4 linked regions of the Homo sapiens genome follow. The protein of the gene in region 1 purifies or fractionates together with the protein of each later gene. This does not show direct contact. Each region holds a gene or a part of one and is shown in the gene's direction. Other genes may lie near its edges.

Region 1 (3,530 bases):
TTTTCTCACGGCTGTGCATGTGATGATTCATCACCCTTAAAGAATTCCCGGCCGGGCATGGTGGGTCGTGCCTGGAATCCCAGCACTTTGGGAGGCCAAGATGGGTGGATCACTTGTCAGGAGTTCAAGACCAGCCTGGCCAATATGGTGAAACCCCATCTCTAACTAAAAATACAAAAATTAGCTGGGTGTGGTGGTACGTGCCTGTAATCCCAGCTACTTGGGAGGCCGAGGTGGGAGAATCGCTTGAACCTGGGAGGTCGAGGTTGCAGTGAGCCGAGACCGCACCACTGCACTCCAGCCTGGGCGACAGTGAGACTCTGTCTCAAAAAAAAAATAATAATAATTAGGCCAAGCATGCTGATGTGCTCCTGTAGTCCCAGCACTTTGGGAGGCTGAGGCCAGAGGCCAGAGGACCCCTTGAAGCCAGGAGTTCCAGGCTGTAGTGAGCCGTGGTTCTGCTACTGCTCTCCAGCCTGGGTGACAGAGCAAGACTCTGTCCACCCCCCACCCCCAACAAAAAGAATTTCACTATATAGATGTTTCTTGATTTTTCAAACTGGTCTGTTAGTTTGTGTTCAGTTTGTCACCTTTGTGAGAAAAAAAACACTCATAAGTTAGTGTGTACTTCCTACTTAATTTCTCCTGGGTCATCGTGAAGCACTCCCTGCCCTCCATGAGAACAGTATGTCACCCGCTCTCTTCCCTGTGCCAAGCCCATAAAGGGCTGTTGGCAAATATGTCGGACAAATAGACTCGCCTAAGAGGGCCTTTCTCTCCAAGCCCTCGCCAGCACAGGCTGTGTCACTTTCTTAGGTGGCACCTACCGTCTGTTGCACACTTGCCGCAGATGATTTGGCACAGGATGTCGCTTCAGAAAACCTTGTAGGAAGCTGTGAGGTCGTTACCGTCCCCATTTCACAGACAGGAAAGTGCAGGCCTTAGATGCACTGCCTGATACCCTGTGGCCCCCGCGTTCCTAGACAGATACACTGCCTGGTACACTGTACCCCCCCACCCCCGCTATCGTTTGCAGCTGGGGTTGAACCCTGCATTCATAGACAGGTTCCCCCTTGAGTGAGCCCCCCATCTGCTTAACTGAGGGCTTGTCCTGGTTATAAATGTCTGGGTGGGGGTGGGCACTGCTGGCTGCAGCTGTCAGGACTGGGAATGCTGAACCTGCACTGAGGGGAGTAGGCCCCAGAGATGCTCCCAAGACCCTGGAGACACAGGCCAGGTAGACACCTGTGTGTGTGTGTATATATATGTGTGTGTGTGTATATATATATATGTGTGTGTGTGTATATATATGTACATATATATATACACACACACACACATACATATAAAAGAGCCGGGCATTGTTTGTGTGTGTGTGTGTGTATATATGTATATATGTGTGTGTGTGTGTGTATATATATAGTGTGTATATATAGTGTGTATATAGTGTATATAGTGTGTGTATATATATATTGTGTGTATATATATCGTGTGGATATATATTGTGTGGATATATATATAGTGTATATATATTGTGGACATATGTATAGTGTGTATATATATTGTGGACATATATAGTGTATATATATTTTGGACATATATAGTGTATATATATTGTGGATATATATATAGTGTGTATATATATTGTGGATATATATATAGCGGGTATATGTAGTGGATATATATAGTATATATATATTGTGGATATACACACACACACAATAGCTGGGCATTGTAGTGCATGCTTGTAGTCCCAGTTACTCAGGAGGCTGAGGTAGAAGGATAACCTGAGCCCAGGGAGATTGAGGCTGCAGTGAGCCGTGATCAGTCGCTCCATTGCCCTCCAGCCTGGGCGACAGAGACCCTGTCTCCAAAAAAAAAAAAAAAAAATTGGCTGCAGCTCCAATTTGAGAAGCAAATTCTTGTGAGAGAAGGGTTTTTAAAGAAGAAACCCCATTCTCTCCACCTGAACTTAGGGTGGCCATCATCTCACTTGGCAATCCCTGCCTGGTCAGTAATCACATGAAACTGAATGAGAGTAGACAGGGTGTCTGGAAAAAGTGAATGCTAAAGCAGTACCTGTCACTGCCACTAGGATCCTGACTGAACCGGAATGGCCTCGGGGAGCAGCCTTTCAGGCTCCAGCAGTGGAAGGCGCTGCTGTGTCAGCGGTTACCAGACTGGCAGGACCCAGGACTGCTTTACACTCCTAAAAAGCAGGGAAGACCCCAAAGAGCTTTTGTTATATCTATTGATAGTCACCATGTTTGACATTTAAAAATGAGTCATTTAAATGCTGAAGTGCCTTCTATTTAAAATTGGAAACCAGCCGGGCACGGTGGCTCATGCCTGTAATCCTAGCACTTTGGGAGGCCAAGGTGGGCGGATCACCTGAGGTCAGGAGTTCAAGACCAGCCTGGCCAACATGGTGAAACCCTTTCTCTACTAAAGACACAAAAAAAATAACTCGGCATGGTGGCACACGCCTGTAATCCCAGCTACTCGGGAGGCTGAGGCAGGAGAATCCCTTGAACCCAGGAGGCGGAGGTTGCAGTGAGCTGAGATCGTGCCACTCCACTCCAGCCTAAGTGAGAGCGAGACTCCATCTCAAATAAATAAAGTAAAATTGTAAACCATTATATATTAACATAAGTAAACCATTTAGTGGAACCTGTTTTCAATGACGAAAACAATGAGAAAGATGGTTTTGTTTTCACAAATCTGTTTGGCTTAACTGACAGCTTCTGGATTCTCCTTCCGAATTCAAACTTAGTGTCTCCGTTCAGCTTCTGAAATGCTCTAGCATATACTCAGAGTGGCTGTGGAAACAGCATGGAATGTTGGTGTTGTGCAGACTGCTTTGATCCGGGGGCCTCCCAAAAGGACCCCTGGACCACGCTTTGAGAACCACTTCTCTAAGAGTTGTAAAATAGCTCTAAACACTTGGGGAAATTGATTACTTTTAGGAAGATAAGCTGTGTCTTTGAACAATTTTTAGTGGCTCAACCATGTGCTTGCCCCTTGGGGCAAGTGTGGAATCAATCTGATGCGCTGTCACCGGTAAAGCTGTTCCAGTACACACCTCTCCCTCAAAGTGCCCTACACAGCCCCTTGCTGAATCCTTTGCAGCAGTGAAAATCGGGGGTTGGGGGGAGGCAAGAGTAGGCTGTGCTTGGGGCCATGGAATTATGCAGGTCTCTAAGGGTGTGGACCGAGGAGAACATAAAGGAACAGTGATTTAAACCTGTAATAAACAGATGCCCTTGAGGGGAAGCAGCCCCCACAGTACCCTGCTGGGATGACCTCCCGCAGCGCACCCCACTCACATGGTACCCGGGGAGCTCACACTGCCACACTTGCGGCATGAGGTGGATTTCTTCATGGGGATAAGAACCTGTGCATTGTGGTCCTCACCAGGGCCCAAGTGGTAATCTTTTATTAAGAGCAACAGGAATCCTGGTATGTAGAATTGGGACCGTATCTTAAGTGTTTGAAACCATACTTTCTTTTTTACTGAGACAAGAGGAGTC
Region 2 (3,530 bases), on another chromosome or scaffold:
TTTTATTATTAGCACATTACCTCCATCATGCAATGTAATTCCTGGCAACTGACCCAGGTCTTCCTTTCTCTTCCATTTTCCAAAGTTTCAGCTGTGTCTTTTGGGACAGCTGCGCCATAATCAGCAAATTCCATTGTATCTTTATGTCGTTAGAGGGTTCCCGCTACTTGCTTGCTTTAACTCAAACCTTATTAATTTATTCACCTATTGTGAAAAATGGAGAAACTGAGGCCCAGCAAGAGTCCATAACTTGACTACAGATAGAAACTTTTTTTAAGATTGAATTCTGCTTTAATCTCTTAATGTGGTGAATCACATTAATAGGTTTCTTATATAAACCCAACCCCCCTTGGTCATGATGTATTATCCTTCTTGTATACTACTGGGTTTGATTTGTTAGCGTTTTATATAGAAGCTCTATTTAGTTTCCATAGATTAGGTCTCTTTTTCTCTAAGGTTTGATAACTGTTAGACGACATGCCATCCACTGATACAGCAGCCTTATACAGTAGACTTAAGAGAACAACATTCTCAGAGTAAAACCTTATGAGAAATATCTATTTGCCTGAATGTTTTTAGAAAGCTGGGTTTTCTTTCCACTTCTAAGTGGCAGTATTGTAATAGTTTCATTGCCTTGATCTTCCTCCATTTACCCATGACGGATATCAATTTTATACTTACAGGTAGAGAAGCAATTCAGAATGCATGCCTATCATGCCACTGGAATCCACTAAAATGGCTTGTGGGAATTGTTGGAGGAAGTACCTTCAGAATAACCTAAGATTCACTCATATATTCTTTATATTTATCAAGGACCTACTATCATTCGTCTTTTCAAACAACTTTTTAAATAACTGTTTCTAACAACTTTAATTTACTGTTACAAACTATGCTTTTACTAGTGACTGTTATCCAGAGGATTCTGAAATTTGAGTAGTTCCTAGATTGAAATACTCTGGATTTTATAGCTGCTAGAAATGGAACTTTCACTTTCTGAAATTTAATGCTCTTGACTAAATTAAAGCCTTATTTTTTTAATTAAGAATATTCTTAAAGCTCTCTAGTTTAAAATGATGTGAATATAAATTTGTGTAGGAAGAATACATTTATTAGAATGCCTCCAGTGATGAGAGATTATATCATAGAAAGAAAACTTGAAAGAAAGCAAACTCACTTATCAAAAATGTTTACTTGGATTTTACGTAAGCTTATGATACATCAGCTAGCTGTAAGTGTCTGATAGTGATGTACCCATCATATATTTATTCCTCTTCTCAATTTTTCTTTTATTTAATAGCATGTTTTTGGCCCAGAGGAGCCTCTGCTCTCTTAGCGGTAGAGCAAAATTCCTGAAGACAATTTCTTCTTCCAAAATCCTCGGATTCTCTACTTCTGCTGTAGGTATTGCTTACTTACAGATAAATTATTGTACATATTCTGCACTGTCCAAAAAATATGTAATTTTTCAGATGCTTTTTTACAAATACTTTATTGAAATGAACATTTCTATTACATATGCTGAAGGTGTCTCTTGTCATTGACTAGAATTGACATTCACTGAGCAACTGCTTGCCTGTCTGTGGATCAGGCCATGTGCTGGTCATTATATATTCATTACCTCATTTTGTCTTCACAAAACCCTTCAAGTTATGAATATAGGTCCAGTGGCATGGGAAAAAAGTAGAAGAGGATATTTCAGGAGGACTGCTCAGGGATCGAAAAAGGTTTAAAACCCATAACCACCAAATACAATACGTACATCTGCTTTAGGAACTTGATTCAGTCAACCAAAATGCAGAAAGACATTTTTTAAAGACAATCAGAGAGATACGAATGTGGACTGGGTATTAGATGTTAACAAGAAATTATTGTTGGTGAGGTGTGGTAATGAAATTGCAGTTATATAAGTAGCAATATTTTTTAGATAATATGCCAAGTATGTAGGGATGTAATGACCTAAGGTCTAAGATTTATTCTAAAGTTACTCAGCAATTACAGAAAAAAAGAGGCAAAATCTTGAGAATTACTGAATCTGGGTAGTGTGCATATGAGTGTTTTATATTAGGTTAAAGTATATGAAATTGCTATTTTTGTATGAAAATTCCATTTTTGGCATATGAAGTACCATTTTTGTCATAACTGGTTGAATATTGACAATTTTGTATTCAACCTAATTCTAATCTCTCAACTGGTTTAAAATTTTCTCAGTGGTTTAAAATTTTCATAAAAACCATCATCAGTGTCTTCTATATGTAAATCTTATGAATTCTACCTCATAACTGTCTTGAATTCTCTCCTCTTTATGCCACCGTGACCACCTTTTTCAGGCCCTCTCCCAACATAGAAGTCGGTTGAAGCCAGGGAAGTGGTTGTGCTTCCCCAAGGTGAACATATGAAACCATGGCACTAAAAGGGCATTTGTGTGCACAATCCTCATTTGTGGAACTTTTATTAGACTACGTATGCCAGGGCTCACCATTATGCATTCTAATTCTACATATCTGGAATGTATTTTGAAAAATCTTTCCAGCTGATTCTGATGTATGTCCCAGGCAAAAACCACTGACAATGCATTATTCAAACTTGTGGACTATTTGGGATAGCACTAACCCCTCTCCATACCTAGCAGTGGAATGGTTGGGTTGTGTGGTAGCTTTATGTTTAATTAAGTAACTGCCAAAGTGTTTGTATCATTTTAACTACATTGGAAAAGTGTCTACAGTTCATCAGAGGCTTTGCATTTAAAATAGTCGCACAGGGATAAAGATAAATATTCTTCCTATTGCTGGACGAATGAAAAACACTGGCCAGTGTTACAAAAGCAATAGTGATAAGTTTAAATCAAGAAAGACTTGTCAGAACCAGCCAGATAAGTTACTGTGAACTTACTTAGAATATTCGTTTCATCCACATCATCCTTAATGTCATGAAAATCTGCCGGGAAGGGAATAGAATGAAGGATAGGCTGTATTTTCCTGTATTACTTGCTTTTTTACAAAAACATTTTACATATTCTCTAATTTTAAAGAATGTTTTGAATGCTAAAGGAAAAATGTAGGCGGGGCGCAGTGGCTAACACCTGCAATCCCAGCACTTTGGGAGGCTGAGGCCAGTGGATCGCTTGAGACCAGGAGTTCAAGACCAGCCTGGGCAACATGGCAAAACCTCATCTCTATTAAACATACAAAACATTAGCTGGGCACACACCTGTAGTCCAGGATGGTCTCAATCTCCTGACCTTGTGATCCACCTGCCTCGGCCTCCCAAAGTGCTGGGATTACAGGCGTGAGCCACCGCGCCTGGCCCTAAAATAGTCTATTAATTTTTTTTTTTTTAAGAGAGTCTAAAATTTAAATGTCCACCAGAGAAGCGCAAAAGCAACACTGGACAAAACCTTTTCCTTAGGTCTGTCCTTCCTTAAGGAAATCAACTCTCTCTGTCTCTCTCTCTCTCTCTTTTTTTTTTTTCATACAGTCTCTCACTCTTGCCGCCCAGGCTGGAGTGCAATGGCGCAATCTCGGCTCACTGCA
Region 3 (2,593 bases), on another chromosome or scaffold:
ACAGACATAGGCCCCCTACGGGACAGTGTGGGCCCCCAGATATAAGATGGATACCCCCCGCACCTGCAGTAAAGCATCCCAAAGCCAAATGCTCAATTGCATCCTGTCTGCAGCTGGGACTTTGGAGGGTAATGGCTGGGCAGACAGTAAAGTTGATCATCTGTTTTCTCGGGGTGGCAGACGCAGCCATGTCTTGGTATCACCACCCATGTGACAGCTACTCCTGCACAACTGGGACAAATGTCAGGGCCAGAGCCATGAAGGTGTGGTACCCCTTGATCAGCTTCTCCACGTCCTGGCCCCAGGTCTTGGCGGGGAGGGGGTCACATGAGTACAGAGGTCAAATATCTACCACCCTCCAGCCCTGAGCACCAGAAGCTCTGCAACCAACGTCCCCAGGAATGGCCTTCCCCTTGCTGCTCAGGTCATACTTCTGGAGGAAGAGAAAGCTCATTCCATATTTTCCCCACCACTCTACTCCGAAAGCAACACAGTTCTGGCCCAGTATCAAACTAGGGTTAGGTCCAAGAGAGCAGTCAAGCGGGTCGGGGGTGGGGGGGAGGGCGGAGGGCAGCAGGCATTTTCCCCCAAGGAAACCATGAAAGTCCCCAGGGCCTGCAGTCAAGTTTCTATCACCTTCCCCGTGAGAAGGACCTTAGTTCCATGGAGATGAAGTGGGTGAGGTTCAGGTAGAAGCCACAGGGGCAGGCATCCAGAATGAGGCCCCCTGAGGAACCCTGAGTGCTGACCAGTGCCGGCAGAAATCAGTTCCACCCTGTGGCCCTGACACTATATGTCAGGGTGACACCAACTGCAGCAGGCAGGAGCCACAGGAAGGAAGACGTCATCCGATGGAGCCTGACATCCCCAGGTTCCCGCCCTGGTGAGCAAGGTCTTCATTTGGCTTTGGTACATATGACCCTATACAGGGAACCTAGTGTGTATCACTCACCAGCCTCTTTCTGTATCTGGGGAAACCAAGGCAGTGAGGTGACTGCACTCACCTAGCAATAAAGTAGGCCTTTGGTGCACTTGCAGGCATGTCCTCCTCTGGGGCAGAGAGCAGGTTCCTTGCTGAAGGGCAGATGGTGGCAAACATCTCCCTCAACTGTTTCCCTGGGCCAGTCTTTAGGGAGCCTAGGGACAAGGGCCCACCCTCCCCCTTCCACGTGTGCCAAATCAGCACCTGAAGTGAGGCATTTCCAGCAAGCAACTCCACAGACCCGAGAAAGGAAGGGCTCTAGTGGAAGAGCTAGCATCTCACCACCCCAGGTCCCCTGGCCTGGTCCAGGGCAGCCAGCTGCATGTGACCATTCTGTTGCCAGCTCCCCACACATCCCTCCTGTCACCCAGGCTCCAAGACATTCGACCAACTAGACTGAAAATGCAGGCATCCAGCTTTGGGAGACCCTGTGTGTGCCACACCAGGGCTAAGCTCTCCCAGTGCCCTAGCAAGGTCTTTTTTTTTTTTTCTCTCCTTATTCTACTCTACAGTCTTTTGACAGTATTCCCAAACGAGGTTGACACAGCTCCAGTCCACACCAGCATACCAGGCTTCCTTCCCAGGGCAGTTTAGAGGAAGCTCCTTCTGGGCAAGGTCAGGCGGTCCTCCTTCCCTCTCTCCTTCCCCTTTGTCCCAGCCTCAACTGACTCTGGCTGTGGGAGGTGTGGAGGGTCCTTAGGCTTCCCTCCCCAACCTGGCCTCCACCAACACCCCTAACAGGAGGCCCGTGGAAGGCTCAGCCTCTCCTCCGCATCCCTCCTCCTTCCTGCCTATCGGAGGGAGCCAGGGTCCCCTAGGCTGACCCTGAATCCTCTTCCTCCCTTCATGGGAGGGGGGCAGGAATCCAGAGGAGGATGAAGCCAGCGGGACCACATGGCTTGGTGGCTTGGACAAACAAGCTCAGGGAGGAAATGAGGAGGCGGCGGCTGCAGAGGAATGCAACCCTGTTGGGCACAGACCATGCAATCTGGGGCTGGCCCTGGGGCCAGCTGGGTCCTGTCCTCCACCTGCTCAACCGTGCTTCCACCAACCAGAGGAAACCCATTTACTAGTTTTTCTAATAAATCAATAATGCTCCATGTTTCTCTCAGTTTCTTATTTAACTAGCCTCCTCTCCCTTTGAACTGAGCCTAAGAGGGCTGGCACCATGGAGACAGAGGGACAGCCAGATTCTCTAGCTTGTCCCTGGGAGCCTTATGGGACGACTGCAAGCACCCGGTTCCTGGGCTTCATCACAAACTCCAAGAAAAGCTTGCTCATTCATGCATTTGATCAACTTGAAGGCCTACTGTAGGGCAAAATCATTTCCAAGCAGTGATCAGTCCAGGCCCCTCCCCACAGAGCTCAGGACAGATCTCAGCACTCACTGGACCGCAGAATCATCAGAATCTCTAAGCCTGGGATTCACCTCCAGAGGGCAGTTTCTGTTGGTCTAGGGAGATGGAATGTAAGCACTGCGTTTCCAGAAGGCTCCCCAGATAATTCCAATGGGCAGCCAGTGAGAACCACCGACCTGGTGCAAGGTTCCCAGGCATACCTAGATGGCCGTGTAAGGACTGCCTGGGGAAGGGGTTAACTACAACTTCCTGG
Region 4 (3,530 bases), on another chromosome or scaffold:
TTAATAAGCTACATTTTTTTTTTGTTTGTTTGTTTTTGTTGAGACAGTCTTGCTCTGTCACCTAGGCTGGAGTGCAGTGGTGTGATCTCAGCTCACTATAACCTCTGCCACCCGGGTTCAAGTGATTGTCTTGCCTCAGCCTCCTTAGTAACTGGGATTACAGGCGCCCACCACCACGCCCGGCTATTTTCTTTTTTAAATTTTTTATTTTTAGTAGAGACGGGGTTGGTCTCAACTAAATGTTGGCCAGGCTGGTCTCAAACTCCTGGCCTCAAGTGATCCACCCTCCTAGGCCTCCCAAAGTGCTGGGATTACAGGAGTGAGCCACTGCACCTGGTCTTTTTATTTGTATTTGAAAGCAGCCTGAGTGGATATTTTAACACCAGAATTTCCAAAAGTATGTAGCACAGGTTGTTACAACAAAATGACAGCACTTAGGAATAACTGCTAATCTTAAGTATGTTTTTTATAAGTAAAATAACCCATTATTTGGTATAAAGATTTCACACTGATAACATTTTTGAGTTATCAGGCAAAAATAGAGAGTATTGAGAAAAGAGACCCTCTCAATTTTGTTTAATTTGAAAATATTAACATTTAAAAATCACACTGGGGTTTTTCAGGTGGTGGGACTTTTTCTTCATTTAAGTGGAGACTACCCAGTCTTTATGTTAATGGTTGATAAATCATCCTTTCAGTATCATTATCATTAGGCCAATGTGTGCAGGCCTCCCACTGCAGAGATTGACTACTTTTTTCTGGCATCTAATTCTATGCGTGGGAATACATTTTCCATTAATGTGAGCTCACTCAATTTTACCTGGAAGCATCCATATTCCTAATGAAATTGGAATTTTTCCAAAAGATGAGGCCTGGTCTTGGATGACTACATTTTCACTTGAAACATTTATTTTGGGTAATTATAACACTGAACTCGACAAGTAAATGTTACACTTGGAAAGAACTTTTTTAGCTTTTCCAACCAAAGGCAGATGTATTGCAATAAAATAACTGTCTTAAACGGTCCTCTACTATTTAGTTCTTAGTTATTTGCTGTTTATTCTAAATATATGTGCATATTGATAAATCATAGAAATAACTTCCACTAGTGATCTTACCTTTAGCCATTTCATAGTTAGGTCAGAATATCCATTTCCAAGTAATACTTGACCACTATGTTTCTACCATAGGTAAATGATAAGCTTCTAAAATTATATTCACATATATCCAAATCTCCAGGAGTCACAATCTGTTGCTCTATAAGTTTTTTCAAAACATTCTTATTTACATTTTTTCTTGGTTGTCTAAGTGACATCTAGGTGGTAGTAGAAATTATTCACTGATACTTTATCTACAAAATGGCTCAATCTTCTAAACTCATAGTTCCTTTAATATTACCTTTATCTCTTAATAATCAGTATGGAGTCTACTCTGCTATAAATTCTCATGTGACATTCCATTTTGCAATTAGTATAACTCTTAAAGGTACTGAAAAGTGCAGTATTACAATAAGTTGTCAAAGGCATCTCATTACTATGAAGTCCATGAAGTTTAAAAATTTTAAATTTATCTCTTATTTTCAAACTAGCTACCATCTTTAAAAATTCAGCAAAGTGGTAACTGGAATATTAATAGCTATAATTATTTCTTAGGTCCATGCTTTTCAGAAATAATGCTTAAATGTTTACTTACTTCTTCATAATATAGCACAATATAATCATTTAGAAATTATGTAAGTTTGATATTAACAAATATCATTAACTTACATTTTTATTTATCTTGCTTGAAAAAGTTAATTCAAAATATTAATTTATTTATTCATGAAAACAACAATTGATAATTTATCCTATTCTAAATATGAATGATAAAATCTGAGTAAGTTGCAGTCCTGGCTTCCATTTCATGAATACACAGGAAACAAAAGCTGAAATGAAAACTTTTCCCCTAAATATTTAAATCACATGTTTGATTTCATTTTTAAATGGTCTGGGTATAAGCAAAAATTTGTACATTATTTTATTTCTCTAAATTTGACCTCTTTCCATAAATTTTCTTTGCCCCACTTCCAAATGCGGCGAGAATTCATGCTTCTCATTGAATTCACAGATATCTTTAGAATGTTTTATTGCTTAGTGTTAAATATGTTGAGTAAATACTGGCTTATGTTCCTAGGTTACTTTTCTCCCTTCACTGTTTAGTTAAATAATCAATTCTTTCAAGTAACAACTTTTAAAAAAACTGGAATCTAGAAATTCATCAGGAGTGGAGATCATCAAAAACGTAATTACTTTATATTGTTAACATTTTAGTATATACAGGTAAATTCAAATACATAAAGAGTGTGGAAAAATTAAACCTAATATATTCTTAATTGATGTGATGTGAGTGTAACAAATATACAAATCACATTCCCACAATAGGAAACAAATTTCCTGTTTGAATTTCTCTGTAAAGGACCGACTTCTGAAATCTTTATGTAAGTTACAGTCAAGACAGTTGATGAGGCTATAGTTCTTGAAAAAGGGGCATGGGAGGGAATTACAGACATTCTACAAATTTAAAAAACCATAAATGTACATATTTTAAGAAATTAACAGTTGCTGTAATAACATAAAAGTAGATATATGTATGTTTTAATATATACAGCACACACACACTTTTAAATACTTCAACATCTCAATGTTTTGATGATCATAAATCTGAAAGGATCTGATTTTTCTATAAAATGTAACTTGGGTGGTAAAGAGGTTAATGGTAAGTTGTCTTGAATCAGATTGAAATCCCATCGTACCAAGAGATAATATCGTTTTACTTAACCTCTATGTGTTTATAAAAAGCGAATAATATTAAAACTTATTTCAGAGGATTGTGATAATTTAACGGGATAATTCCATTAAGACAAATAGAAAAGTGGCTGTCACATGGGAAATATTTCCAATAGATGTCCACTGTTAAAACAGGAATCACAATATTTTAGTGTATGTCATGAATTAGCACAATTGATAGTGAATTAGTATAAAAGTTCTAAGGAAATATTTAGATAAAATATAAGGACTTTGAGGAGTGACCGAAGGATATTACAATTGAAACTAGAAATTTTGGGAAAGTTCAAACGACATACAAGGAAAAGAAGATACGTTTACATATTTAATACTTACACGTTTAGCCACATGATGTCGCTGTCCACCACAAGGTCTTTCTCCACAAAAGAAATAACAGCGTGCATTACGTATTCAGATACTGCTTTGCTTCATCCTCTCTAAAATTTAACACCGAGGAGTTTAAGAAATGAAGATAAGGAACTCGAATTATTTTTAAACTTTGGATCAATGTAAAGGCAATCTAATATTTGGAAAATACTTGCAATGTTGTTCTCCTGGCGAGAAGATCCTGGAGCCCAGTGCCTGCTGCTTTCTCTTCTGCTCCTCGCAGCCTCGGAGGTGGGGAGCGGCCAGCTCCACTACTCCGTCTCTGAGGAGGCCAAGCATGGCACCTTCGTGGGCCGCATCGCGCAGGACCTGGGGCTGGAG

What was found. The genes of interacting proteins can lie anywhere in the genome.
Region 2: the proteins of DIDO1 (region 1) and RBMXL1 purify together in Homo sapiens (affinity purification with mass spectrometry; one large-scale study listed by BioGRID and IntAct). This does not show direct contact.
Region 3: the proteins of DIDO1 (region 1) and SPTB purify together in Homo sapiens (affinity purification with mass spectrometry; one large-scale study listed by BioGRID and IntAct). This does not show direct contact.
Region 4: the proteins of DIDO1 (region 1) and PCDHA2 fractionate together in Homo sapiens (co-fractionation; one large-scale study listed by BioGRID). This does not show direct contact.

Annotation. Positions count from the first base shown.
Region 1 is NC_000020.11:62,919,993-62,923,522, reverse strand, and holds part of DIDO1 (death-inducer obliterator 1), read left to right. Parts: intron 1-3,530. UniProt on the Homo sapiens protein: Putative transcription factor, weakly pro-apoptotic when overexpressed. Tumor suppressor. Required for early embryonic stem cell development.
Region 2 is NC_000001.11:88,986,119-88,989,648, reverse strand, and holds part of RBMXL1 (RNA binding motif protein, X-linked-like-1), read left to right. Parts: intron 1-1,297; 5' UTR 1,298-1,298; coding exon of another isoform or gene 1,299-1,397; intron 1,398-3,530. Other genes in the region: KYAT3 (kynurenine--oxoglutarate transaminase 3), read left to right, coding at 1,299-1,397.
Region 3 is NC_000014.9:64,745,772-64,748,364, reverse strand, and holds the end of SPTB (spectrin beta chain, erythrocytic), read left to right. Parts: 3' UTR 1-2,082; downstream 2,083-2,593.
Region 4 is NC_000005.10:140,797,833-140,801,362, forward strand, and holds part of PCDHA2 (protocadherin alpha-2 isoform 1 precursor), read left to right. Parts: intron 1-3,224; exon of another isoform or gene 3,225-3,365; coding exon of another isoform or gene 3,366-3,530. Other genes in the region: PCDHA3 (protocadherin alpha-3 isoform 1 precursor), read left to right, coding at 3,366-3,530. UniProt on the Homo sapiens protein: Potential calcium-dependent cell-adhesion protein. May be involved in the establishment and maintenance of specific neuronal connections in the brain.